Linked DNA regions of Homo sapiens. The protein of the gene in region 2 purifies or fractionates together with the protein of the main gene of each other region. This does not show direct contact. Each region holds a gene or a part of one and is shown on either strand. Other genes may lie near its edges.

What was found.
Region 1: the proteins of LGALS9C (region 2) and SLC12A4 purify together in Homo sapiens (affinity purification with mass spectrometry; 3 studies listed by BioGRID and IntAct, with this or other methods). This does not show direct contact.
Region 3: the proteins of LGALS9C (region 2) and SLC38A9 purify together in Homo sapiens (affinity purification with mass spectrometry; 3 studies listed by BioGRID and IntAct, with this or other methods). This does not show direct contact.

The regions. Positions count from the first base shown.
Region 1 is NC_000016.10:67,961,908-67,965,656, forward strand, and holds part of SLC12A4 (solute carrier family 12 member 4), read right to left. Parts: intron 2,146-3,749; exon of another isoform or gene 2,121-2,145; coding exon of another isoform or gene 2,024-2,120; intron 1,653-2,023; coding exon 1,558-1,652; intron 1-1,557. UniProt on the Homo sapiens protein: Mediates electroneutral potassium-chloride cotransport when activated by cell swelling. May contribute to cell volume homeostasis in single cells. May be involved in the regulation of basolateral Cl(-) exit in NaCl absorbing epithelia.
Region 2 is NC_000017.11:18,479,653-18,483,401, reverse strand, and holds part of LGALS9C (galectin-9C), read right to left. Parts: intron 1-3,749. UniProt on the Homo sapiens protein: Binds galactosides.
Region 3 is NC_000005.10:55,649,608-55,653,356, forward strand, and holds part of SLC38A9 (neutral amino acid transporter 9), read right to left. Parts: intron 3,117-3,749; coding exon 2,922-3,116; intron 1-2,921.

The DNA.
Region 1 (3,749 bases), on a different chromosome or scaffold from region 2:
CCCGCGGCTGCTTCTCTCTACCCCGCCTTGGCTACAATCACTGCCAGCCCATTTGTGAAAACCACCTGCCTCAGGGGAGAGAGGGCAGGGAAGAACACGGCTGGCAGGGGGGCAATGGCATACTTCATCCTGCCTGCTCTGCCCAGCCACCTCCTGGCTATGGCTGCACCTCTAGGACTCACGCCTACCCTCCCCACAAAAAAGCCACTCTAGTCACCTCAGGGAACCAAAGAGGGCAAAAGAGTGATGTCTGGGACAAGTGAAGTCTCCCTTGTCTGCCCAAACCCTGATCTCCCTGGATGGTCTTCCCCTGACCCCAGTCCTGCAAGTACCCACATCAATCGCGGAGATGGGATCCTGATCCTCCAGCCCATCCTCAGGCGGGGCTGGGCCAAGGCCTTCACCGCAGAACCTTGCTGCTTTCCCAGGTCAGGAGGCCTCCCAGAGCTCAGGTCCCCCAGCCCCACCGGGGTCTAGGCGATGATCCCTGCTCCTGCAGCCTTCTCGAGGCTGTGCTTCTACCTGCCTCCTGCCCACATTTAGCTTTTCCCTCTCTGTCAGCTCCTTTCTGACCTACACACAGGGAGAAGTTGCTTTGGTGTGAGAAAGGAAGACGAGGGCCCTTGGGGGCATGTGGAGATTAAGGAGCCTCGGCCAGATGTGGTGGCTCACAGCAGTAATTCCAGCACTTTGAGAGGCTGAGCAGGAGGATCACTAGAAGTCAGGAGTTCAAGACCAGCCTGGCCAACACGGTGAAACCCCGTCTCTAAAAACACAAAAATTAGCCAGGCATGTGGTGGGCACCTGTAATCCCAGCTACTCGGGAGGCTGAGGCAGGAGAATCGCTGAGCTTGGAAGGCAGAGGTTGCAATGAGCTGAGATCGCGTCACTGCACTCCAGCCTGGGGCGACAGAGTGAGACTCCATCTCAAAATGAAGAAAGAGAAAAAAAAGGCAGATTAAGGAGTCTCCATTACTCAGCCATGCAGTGGCTGAATGCATGGGTCAGAGTTTAGGAGCTTAAACTACGTCTTAAATCCAGATCTCACTGCTCAGCTTGAGTCTGAAGAAGATAAAACTCAAGTACAGAGGCAGATATTTGGGAATCTTTCCAGAGACGTATCCCCTAAAGCTGCAAATGGACCAGGACTCAGGGAACTAGAGAGGGACAGAGCTGGAAGGGTCAACCAAGAAAGACAAGGAAGAATCCATGGGAGAGCGAAGAACCATGGACTTGGAGAAGAACCAGGAGTGGAAGGAAGAGGAGAAATCCTGAGTTGGGAAATCCTAAGCGGGCGTTTCCTTGCTGAGGGGTTGTAAGGAAGTCAGAGGTGAACCACCCTGGAGGTAGCAATGGGGGTGGGATTGTGAGTGGCCTCTGGAAAGGCAGTTTCAGTTGAAAGGGCCAAGGGAACTGCAGCCCGGCTGCCATGAGAACCAGGAACACAAGAGGAGATGAGAGGAAGAGCAAGACAGAGGAGGCCCACGTGTCCAGCCTGCCTGCTTAGCTAAAGCCTCTGTGTGCCAAACCTGTGGCCCAAAATGGCTCCTCAGCTACCTCAAACAGTGCCAGGTTCCTGTCATAGTAGTCAATTCCTCTGGAAGCCTCCAAGGGGGAAAGAAAAGGGCTGCTCTCTCTGTGGTTGCCATGTCCTGTGAAGAGAGAGGGACAATCAGGGCCTGCTTCCTGAGCCCCCCAGCCTGGGCCCCTTCCCAGAAAGCCAGTCCCCAAATCATTTCTGTGGAGCACTTTGGAGCTGCAGTGTCACCAGGTTGCAACTCAGTTTTCACATGGCACCGTGCCAATGCTCTTGAAGGCCCAGGGATAGCCAGAGAGAGGCCAGTGACCAAAACCTGGGACATCATTCCCTCCAGTGAAGGGAATCCAGGTGAGGGCGCAGGCGCCCTAGCACAAGCACGTATGGACACTGAGGGACGGGGCCTGCAGAGGGGCGGGGCCAGCGTTTGACCCGCCCCCAGATCGCCTCCACGCCCCAGTCCCTTTCCCGGTCTTTCCGGAGTACCCAATGTGCAGGATGCCAAGGGTTCGGTGTCCTCAGGGACCGCCCAGGCAGTGCCCTCCAGATAGACGAAGCCGCACACAGCACCTTCGGCTGCCATGGCCCAAAGGTGGCCGGCTGGCTACCCCACCATGCACTGCGCGGGGGGCGTCCTGCAGGGCAGCCCGGGGCATGCCGGGAGGTGGGGCAAGCCCCAGGCCGTGGAGAGCGGAAGTGGATTCCAGGAGCCTTCTAGGGTTGCCTAAGAAAGTCGGACGGGTGGGTGTCGGACTGAGCAGGGAGAAAAATGGGAGCTGGGACTGCTGGCAGGAGCAACACAATGGCCCCCTTGCCCGCAGATCCCGCCGCTTGCCCCAGGCAAACCTCCGCCTACAGCCCTAGGCTGATGAGCCAGTGCCCCAGCTCTGAGAAATCTCGCCAAAAGGAGTGAAATGCTCCTTTTCAATAAGCCTGCCTCAACTCCCAAAGCTCGACTGTTTTTTCTGGCCTCCTATCATTCATTCTTCCCTGTTTTCCAACTCTTGTCCCTTATGAGTCTCGGTGGGTGCCATTCCCAGCTTCCCACCAAGCAGAACGCCAAGCACTCGTTTTCTAGGTGCTGAGTGTTCCCTCCACCCCAGCTACCCTCGCAGCCCCGGCCCTGGCTCAAGGCCTCACAGCAAATGGAAAGCACACATCTTGGTGTTGGATGGCAGCAGTATGTAGTTCTGACATGAGAAGGACTGGCATGGTGTCCAGTGATGGAGATGGCAACAGAACTGTCACCACCAGCCCAGGCTAGTGGTGTGATTGGGCCATGCACTGGCCATGCCCGCCAACCTTTTCTGTTTACATAGGCCACAATTCATTTTTCTTGACTGCAGCTGAGAATGCTGATTGAGGCATCCTCCTGTATCTGATACATCTCTTGCTATCAGCATGAGGCTTCAATTGCTTTCTCTGAGCCAACAACCACTCAGCAGGTGCTGTGCTGTGGATTCTTTATCCCCCAAGGAAACTAACAAATCAAGTGTGCCCATGACAGTTTCTGGGGCAAAGTCAGTTCTTCCTTCCCACAGCATGTGAAAGTGGCACACCTGCTACACCCAGCAACCTGGACTAGCTAAGTGAGCCAAGCAGCTCAGCCCCACATTCACATAGGTCAATGCCAATGGCACAGTGGACAAAGGCAGCCAGAGGTCAAGACAGTCCACCGTGTCATGTTAAAGCCAGGCGGGGTCATGTCGGACACTCTATGATATCTGCTGTACCCTCCATGCTTGTTCAGGATCAGAAGGAGTCCCAAGAAAAATCTGAAAACCCAGTAACACTCTGCCTCTTACATTAATGACATTAATGGCTCTTCAGTGAAAAGCCTTTGAAAATTACTTTTGGATTTTTGTGACAAAAAAAGTGTCTCCCTTTGATAAATCAGGTGCTTCATTTTGTCAGAAAATGCCAGTTATACAGCTCGTCTTACTTCTCTTTCTGCTTTGGCTGCCAGGAATCTCCAAGCTAAATTTACTCTTTAGATAAAGTCACCATCTGTCTCACCTGAGTGCTTGCCCCCTTCCTCTGCATGGTTTTCAATCTTCCTGAGAGTAACAATCACTTGGGGAGACACTTTTGTTGGCTATTTCTTCTGATTCTTTTGTGGAAGTAGGCTGGAAATCAATTATAATTTATTCTAAACTCATGTACTACAGCCTGCCCCATCACTGTTGCCTGGTCTTTCTGGGTAGACTGTATT
Region 2 (3,749 bases):
CAAGGGTCTGCAGGTTCCACCGAGAGGGTCACCAGAGAGTGTCAAGAAGAAGGCATGCACCTCTCCCCACCACCACCATATAACAATGGCCACCGTGACCTTTGCCCTCCTGACCACCTTCAGCAGAGCCTCTTCCCAGATGCCCTCCGCAGCCCCGAGCCCCAGCGTAGTTTCCCCACCCATCCCAGGCCCCGTGGGCAAGCACTTTGTCAAATTCTCTCTTCCGCGCCTCTTTAAAGGAGCTATGGGCCATGGTGAGGCATGCATCGTTTTGGAGTCAGGCCGACTCCAGGTCTGAATCCTAACTCTGCTGCTCCTGACCTGAGTGGCCTTGGGAAGCCTATTTCACCTCTCTTTGCCTCAGTTTCCTCATCTGTAAAATAGGAAGGTGTTTCTCCTACTGCATATGATTGATGATTTTGTGAGAAAAAGCCTGTGGTAGAAGAGACTGGCACAGAGGAGACGCTTCACCACTGTCACCCACCCCCCACCTTGGTCTCTCTGAGCAAAATTCACAAACTGGTACTTCCAATTTTCAAAGTTTATTCCGAAATGCCTCATATCCGGTGTGGTTCTATAACCTGCATTAAAGCACAGTTCTATCTCATGGCTGATTTTCACATTCTTCAAGTTTTTAATGTCTTCTCTAATATCTCCTTTAGGTCAATTTCCTACACAAATTAAATGCCTAAAGAAGCCAGGCAGGTGATGTGTATGAGTCAGATGGCCAGGTAGGGAGTGGTGGGGACTGTGGCAAAGTAGACGTCACACGCCTCATCTAAAAAGTCAACATCTTCTCAGCACTAACCAATGATTACCGTCTGGGCTTAGTATTGGCAGAACTTCCAAATTTTTAAGATGAGACAGAAACCTGAATTTTTTTTTTTTTTTTTTGTAAAACTTTCTAATTTCTTGGGGGAAATCTTTTGTCAAAAAGGATTATGTAAAAGTTCCTGACTGGGCACAGTGGCTCACATCTATAATCCCAGCATTTTGGGAGGCTGAGGTAAAACAATCACTTGAGCCCAGGAGTTTTAGGCCAGCCTGGGCAACATAGTGGGACCCCCATCTCTACAAAAAATAAAAAAATTGGCCAGATGTGGTGGTGCACACCTTTAACCCCAGTTACTTGGGAGGCTGAGGTGGGAGGATCACTTGAGCCTGGGAGGTCGAGGCTGTAGTGAGCCACGATTGCACCACTGCACTCCAGCCTGGGCAACAAAGCGAGACCCTGTCTCAAATGAAACTCCCCAAATTCCCACATTGTAGAGATACACAATGAAATATTTACAATGGAATGAAATCTCTGGATTTGCTTCCGCATATCTGAAGGTGGGAAGAGAAGCAAGCGAGGGAGGGTATAGGATGAAGCAAGATAGGCCTGAGTTGATCATTGTTGGAGCAGAGTGATGGGTGTGTGTTGTTGATGGTACAATTCTCTCTGCATGTTTGAATTTCCTATAATAACAAGTTAAAATAAACACTGTGCAGGCCAAACAGAAAACACCCACTAGCCAAATTCAGCCTACTGGTCACTGCTTTCTGGTCTGTATTGTTGAGTTATGTGACCACACAGCACCCTGGGAAACCCATCCTAGCTCAGTGTACACACCTGGCACCGTGAAAGCCCCAGGCAATCTGAGATCTGATCCAGATAGTCTCTGCTCCCCATGGATTTGAGGGGGTTGTCTTTTCTTGCCCCTCAGGTCAGGTCTGAACTCTGCCATTAAATACTTTGGTGACCTCAAGCAAATCACAGCTTCTCTGTGTCTCTGACTTCTCTTTCTTGTCCCTGTCTACACCAGCGGTGTGGGGGAAGGAGAGTCAGCCTGATCCAGTTATGGGCCAGCATGGGCTAGGATTGGGAAGCCTGTTGTCCCTGAAACGCGTCTGTGGAAGATTTTTCCCCTTGCCTGTTTGTGGCAGCCTGTGATTCCCTCCAGAGCCTTTCATTCTATCATGAGAGACAACGCTGAAAATACACACCCTCCTGGGAAGCATGCGGCCTCCACTCAAGCGTATTCACACCACAGCACCTAGAATTGAAGGCAGAGAGTGATGGACATGGGCTCGCAAGTCCACACAAGGCTTAACTAAGGAAGCCAGGAGGGAGAAAGACCAAGTACAGGTCATGGGGGCAGGACAGGGCAGGCTAATCTCCAAGGCAACAAGTTCCCCAAAAAAGTTCTGTGAGGTTTCAAAATGTCTTAAATGGCACCCCCAATTTCTGAAAAACAAGATTATTTTATTATTTATTTTATTTTATTTTATTTTGAGATGGGTTCTCACTCTGTTGCCCAGGCTGGAGTGTAGTGAGGAGTGTGATCATGGATCACTGCAGCCTCCACCTCCTGTGCTCAAGTAATCCTCCCACCTCAGCCTCCCGAGCAGCTGAGACCAAATAAGTGCAGGCCACCAAGCCATGCCCCACTAATTTTCAAATTTTTTTGAAAAGACCAGGTCTCGATATGTTGCCAGGGCTGGTCTTGAACACCTGGGCTCAAGTGATCCTTCTGTCTTGGCCTCCCAAAGGGCCGGGATTTCAGACATGAACCACTATGCCTGTCCTGAAAAATGAGATTTTAAATTGAATATCATCCAACAAACAAGGTTATTCATTGCAGCATTATAACACAAAGGATTATAAAGCAAAGCATTGGAAGGAGCCTAAAAGTCTTCCAACAGGGAAAAGGTGAAATAAATTAGGGTATTTCCATATAATAGAATAAGTTCTGTGTAGCTTTCAAAAGAAAAGAAAAAGAAGACGGAAAAGAAAAAAGAAAAAGAGGAAAACTCTGAGCACCGATATGGAATAATGCCATTTGCATAAAAAGTGGGTAGGGGAAGGCTATGGACTTGCATTTATTTATTTATAGATAAAATATCTCTGGAAGGATTTACAAGAAACTTATAATACTGGTTATCAGTGGGCGACCCCCCAGAAACATCCACATTCGAATCCCCGGAAACTGTGAATATGTTGTAGAAGGGACTTTGCAGATGTGATTAAATGCATAATTTTGGCATGGGGAGATTGTCTTGGATTATACAGGTGGTCCCAATGTAATCACAAAGGTCCCATAAAAGGGAGCAGGAGGATCAAAGTCAGAGGTAAGAGATGTGACAACAGAAGCAAGAAGCTGGTTTTGGGGGTTTTGTTTGTTTGTTTGTTGTGTTTTTTTTTTTTTTTTTTGAGACAGGATCTCATTCTGTCACCCAGGCTGGAGTGCAGTGGCATGATCTCAACTCACTGCAGCCTCCACTTCCCCAGGCTCACGCGATCCTCCCACCTCAGCCTCCCAGGTAGCTGGGACTACAGGCATGCACCACCATGCCTGGCTAATTTTTGTCTATTCTTTGTAGAGACACAGTCTCAGTTTGTTGCCCAGGCTGGTCTCCAACTCCTGGGCTAAAGAGATCCTCCTGCCTCAGCTTCCCAAAGTGCTGGGATTACAGGCATGAGCCACTGCACCCAGACAAAGCTGCTGGTTTTAAAGATGGCAGGAGGGGTCATAAGCCAAGGCAGGCAGGCAGCCTCTAGAAGCTGGAAAAGCAAAAGAAACAGATTCTCCCCTGGAGCCTCCGGAAGGAGACAACCTTGCTCACACGATGATTTTAACATCTGCCCTCCAGAATCATTAAGAAAGCAAATTTGTTGTTTTAAGATTGGCCAGCCAAGGCTGCTGTGGAATTTAGATCCGTGTGTCCAGGAAACCCAGGAAAACAACTGGACCTACTTTTGCTCCGTA
Region 3 (3,749 bases), on a different chromosome or scaffold from region 2:
GGTCAGGAGTTCGAGACCAAACCGGCCAACATGGCGAAACTTCATCTCTACTAAAAATACAAAAGTTAGCCAGGTGTGGTGGCACACGCCTATAATCACAGCTACTCGGGAGGCTGAGACAGGAGAATCACTTGAATTCGGGAAGCAGAGTTTGCAGTGAGCCAAGATTGCACCACTGCACTCCAGCCTGGGCAACAGAGCGAGACTCCATCTCAAAGGAAAAAAAAAAGAATAAGAAAAGAAGAATCAGATGAAGGTAGCTCATACAATGCTGAATGCAAAACTGCTTCATTTACTTATGAGTTGAGTTTAAGCAGAAGATACAAGCAGAGAGTCCATTACAAAATTATAGGATTACATAGGATTGAAAAAAACAACATGAAACTTACTTTTATTCTTTGAATTGGAAGTGTTAGAGTCAGTCTGTCACAGTATTTAATGTGAGATGGTAAGAGGGTAAAGAAAGAAAAGCAGTGAATGTGGATCAAAAGCATATTTGAGAAAGGTGAGAAGCCAAATACATGAACAATCCTGATCTAGTATCTAGATGAGGTTTTGACTGGGTAGCACTACTTGCTAGACAGAGATTCCAGACTCCATTCTCAGGTATTATATACAAGGTAAAATGGGCATTCAGAATATTTTAGTAGTGTAGAAGGTAGAAGATTATTCCTTTTAAGAAATTAAGTCTAGTCATTATGGAGTAGAGTCAGAAAATTCAGGAAGGCCTTAGATGCTAATTCCTCTAATGAAGCTATGGTTTTAAGAGAAAGGGAAAGTACCAAGGAAAAGAACAAAAGCAGAATATCCTTAAGGAGCTGAAGAATGAACAATCAACCTGGTTGGAAGTCTGGTGATTGTTGTGCCCAATTGAGCAAATCCTTCTATAAGTTTATATTCTTTTAAAAGATCTGTTTCACAGAAAAGTTGGCAAGCAAATCAGGAAACCACGAATGAGCGATATAAGCAGTACTGTGGGTTTGGAGATTAGCTGATTCAGAAAGGATGAAAACAGGACGCCAGAGCTTATATAACCACAACTCTTCATCTTCTGTGTGTCTATGGCAGCTTACAGTGAATCCTGTTCCTGAGGCAGACAGGCAAAGAGAAATAATTTTAACTTTTCCTTTGGTCTTCTGGAAACCTAGAAGCCACTGCCTTGTTCCTTGATATGCTGGGTTATTTATTTATTTATTTGTTGAGACAGAGTTTTCGCTCTTGTTGCCCACGCTGGAGTGCAATGGCATGATCTCGGCTCACTGCAACCTCCGCCTCCTGGGTTTAAGCAGTTCTCCTGCCTCAGCCTCCCGAGTAGCTGGGATTACAGGCATGCGCCACCATGCCTGGCTAATTTTGTATTTTTAGTAGAGACAGGGTTGCTCCATGTTGGTCAGTTTGGTCTCGAACTCCTGACCTCAGGTGATCTGCCTGCCTCAGCTTCCCAAAGTGCTGGGATTACAGGCGTGAGCCACCGCACCCAGCCTATCTATTTTATGCTCTAGACTGCCTGCCAGAGATCACATCCACAGGGAGGAAGTGAAATCGTATGGTTTATGTGGAGTTATCGATTCCTTATGAATGATATCCTTGTCCTTGGTTAGCCAGATCTGAACTTTCACTGGGGGGGTTCCTTTTGCCATCTTTTTTTTTTTTTTTTTTTTAAGACAGAGTCTCATTCTGTCACCCAGGCTGGAGTGCAGTGGCATAATCTTGGCTCACTGCAACCTCCACCTCCCAGGTTCAAGCAATTCTCTGCCTCAGCCTCCCAAGTAGCTGGGATTACAGGCACCAGCCACCACGCCCGGCTAATTTTTCTATTTTTAGTAGAGACAGGGTTTCACCATCTTGGCCAAGCTGGTCTTGAACTCCTGACCTCGTGATCCACCTGCGTCAGCCTCCCAAAGTGTTGGGAATACAGGCGTGAGCCACCACACCTGGCCCCTTTTGCCATCTTAAGTGGAGTAAAAACATTCGTTTAGTGGTTTCTGAAAAGCAGGGCTCACAGAAAGAGGTCTGTTCCTTGAAGAAGGCAATAGCGTTCTAAGAAAAAAAAGCACTGAGGAAGAGAGCAAAAGCAAAATAAACCTACGAAGCCTGAGATAGAGAATGATTTCCCAGGTTCAAAGTCAGGTGACAATTCTGCACAATACTCTTAGAGACTGTAGGAAAAAACATTCTATAACTTTCCTTAGTAAGTTCTGTTTCCAACCGTTAGAATCAAGAATTCCTATAATATCCAATTTGGATCTCTCCTCCTGAAATTTTCGTGTATTTCGTCTAGTTGTATCCTCAGAGAAAATGAGGAAGAATTGTTCAGTAAGTTTAGAATGAGAAACCAAATAATTCATGTCTCAAAAAAAAAAAACACACACACACAACAAAACCAAAAATGGTCATCTACACTTTTCTCCATGCCAAACTCCATAAAAAAAAATAGAAAAAATCAGGTTATCATAAGAATGAACAAATTGCCGGGCGTGCTGGCTCACACCTGTAATCCCAGCACTTTGGGAGGCTGAGGCAGGTCGATCACCTAAGGTCAGGGGTTTGAGACCAGCCTGGACAACATGGTGAAATCCCACCTCTACCAAAAATACAAAATTAGCTGGGTGTGGTGGCGCATACCTGTAATCCCAGCTACTTGGGAGGCTGAGGCCAAGAATTGCTTGAACCCCGGAAGCAGAGGTTGCAGTGAGCCAAGATTGAGCCATTGCACTCCACCCTGGGCAACAACAGTGAAACTCCGTCTCAAAAAAAAAAAAAAAAAAAAGAAAGAAAGAAAGAACAAAACAAAAACGAATGAACAAATTAAACACAGATGAACAGGCTTGGAAGGTAACTCCCCAATCAGACCATATTTCCCTAGACTCCACCACGTATTCTATTACACAAAGTCTCCATAATTCAGTGCTACTACTTACCTAGGATATTAAATTTTGAAAAAAATGAAGGAGACTTGAAATTGAGCAGTGGGAGGAGGAGCCCTACAAGATAAAAGGGGACTGTCCTGGACTTATCCCACCACTTTTCAAACTGTTGGGCTCCTGTGTCATTGGCATAGAAAATCATAGAGCTGTTGTCAGGATGGCCTCCACTCCCGGCACTTGGACAAATCACTGCAATAGGAAAGCACCAGATTAAAGAAGATGACAAAAAACAAAACAAAACAAAACAAAAAACAGAAAATGACTGCCTCTAGAGACAGACACTTGCTCTACCAACCTCAACTCTTCCTAGGAGCCTAAATTTCTCTTTTCTGGAAAAAATAGAGGGTTAATTTTAGGAATATTAGGACTCTTTCACCTAAAAATAAATAAGGGTGAGGGAATCTTTAAAATTTCTGAGATATTATCATTATTTTTATTTATTTATTTTCTGAGACAGAGTCTCGCTCTGTCGCCCAGGCTGGAGTCCAGTGGCGTGATCTCGGCTCACTGCAACCTCCGCCTCCTGGATTCAAGCGATTCTCTTGTTGCAGCCTCCCAAGTAGCTGGAACTACAGGCACACATCACCATGCCCAGCTAATTTTTGTATTTTTAGTAGAGAGGGCATTTTACCATGTTGGTCAGGCTGGTCTCAAACTCCTGACCTGAGGTGATCCACCCACCTTGGCTTCTCAAAGTGCTGGCATTACAGGCGTGAGCTACTGCGCCCAGCCCTGAGATATTATCTTTAAACTCTACTGGAAACTATAAAAATATCCCACCAAATATCCCTTGGTTCCATTGCCAGAGAGAAAATACTGGGC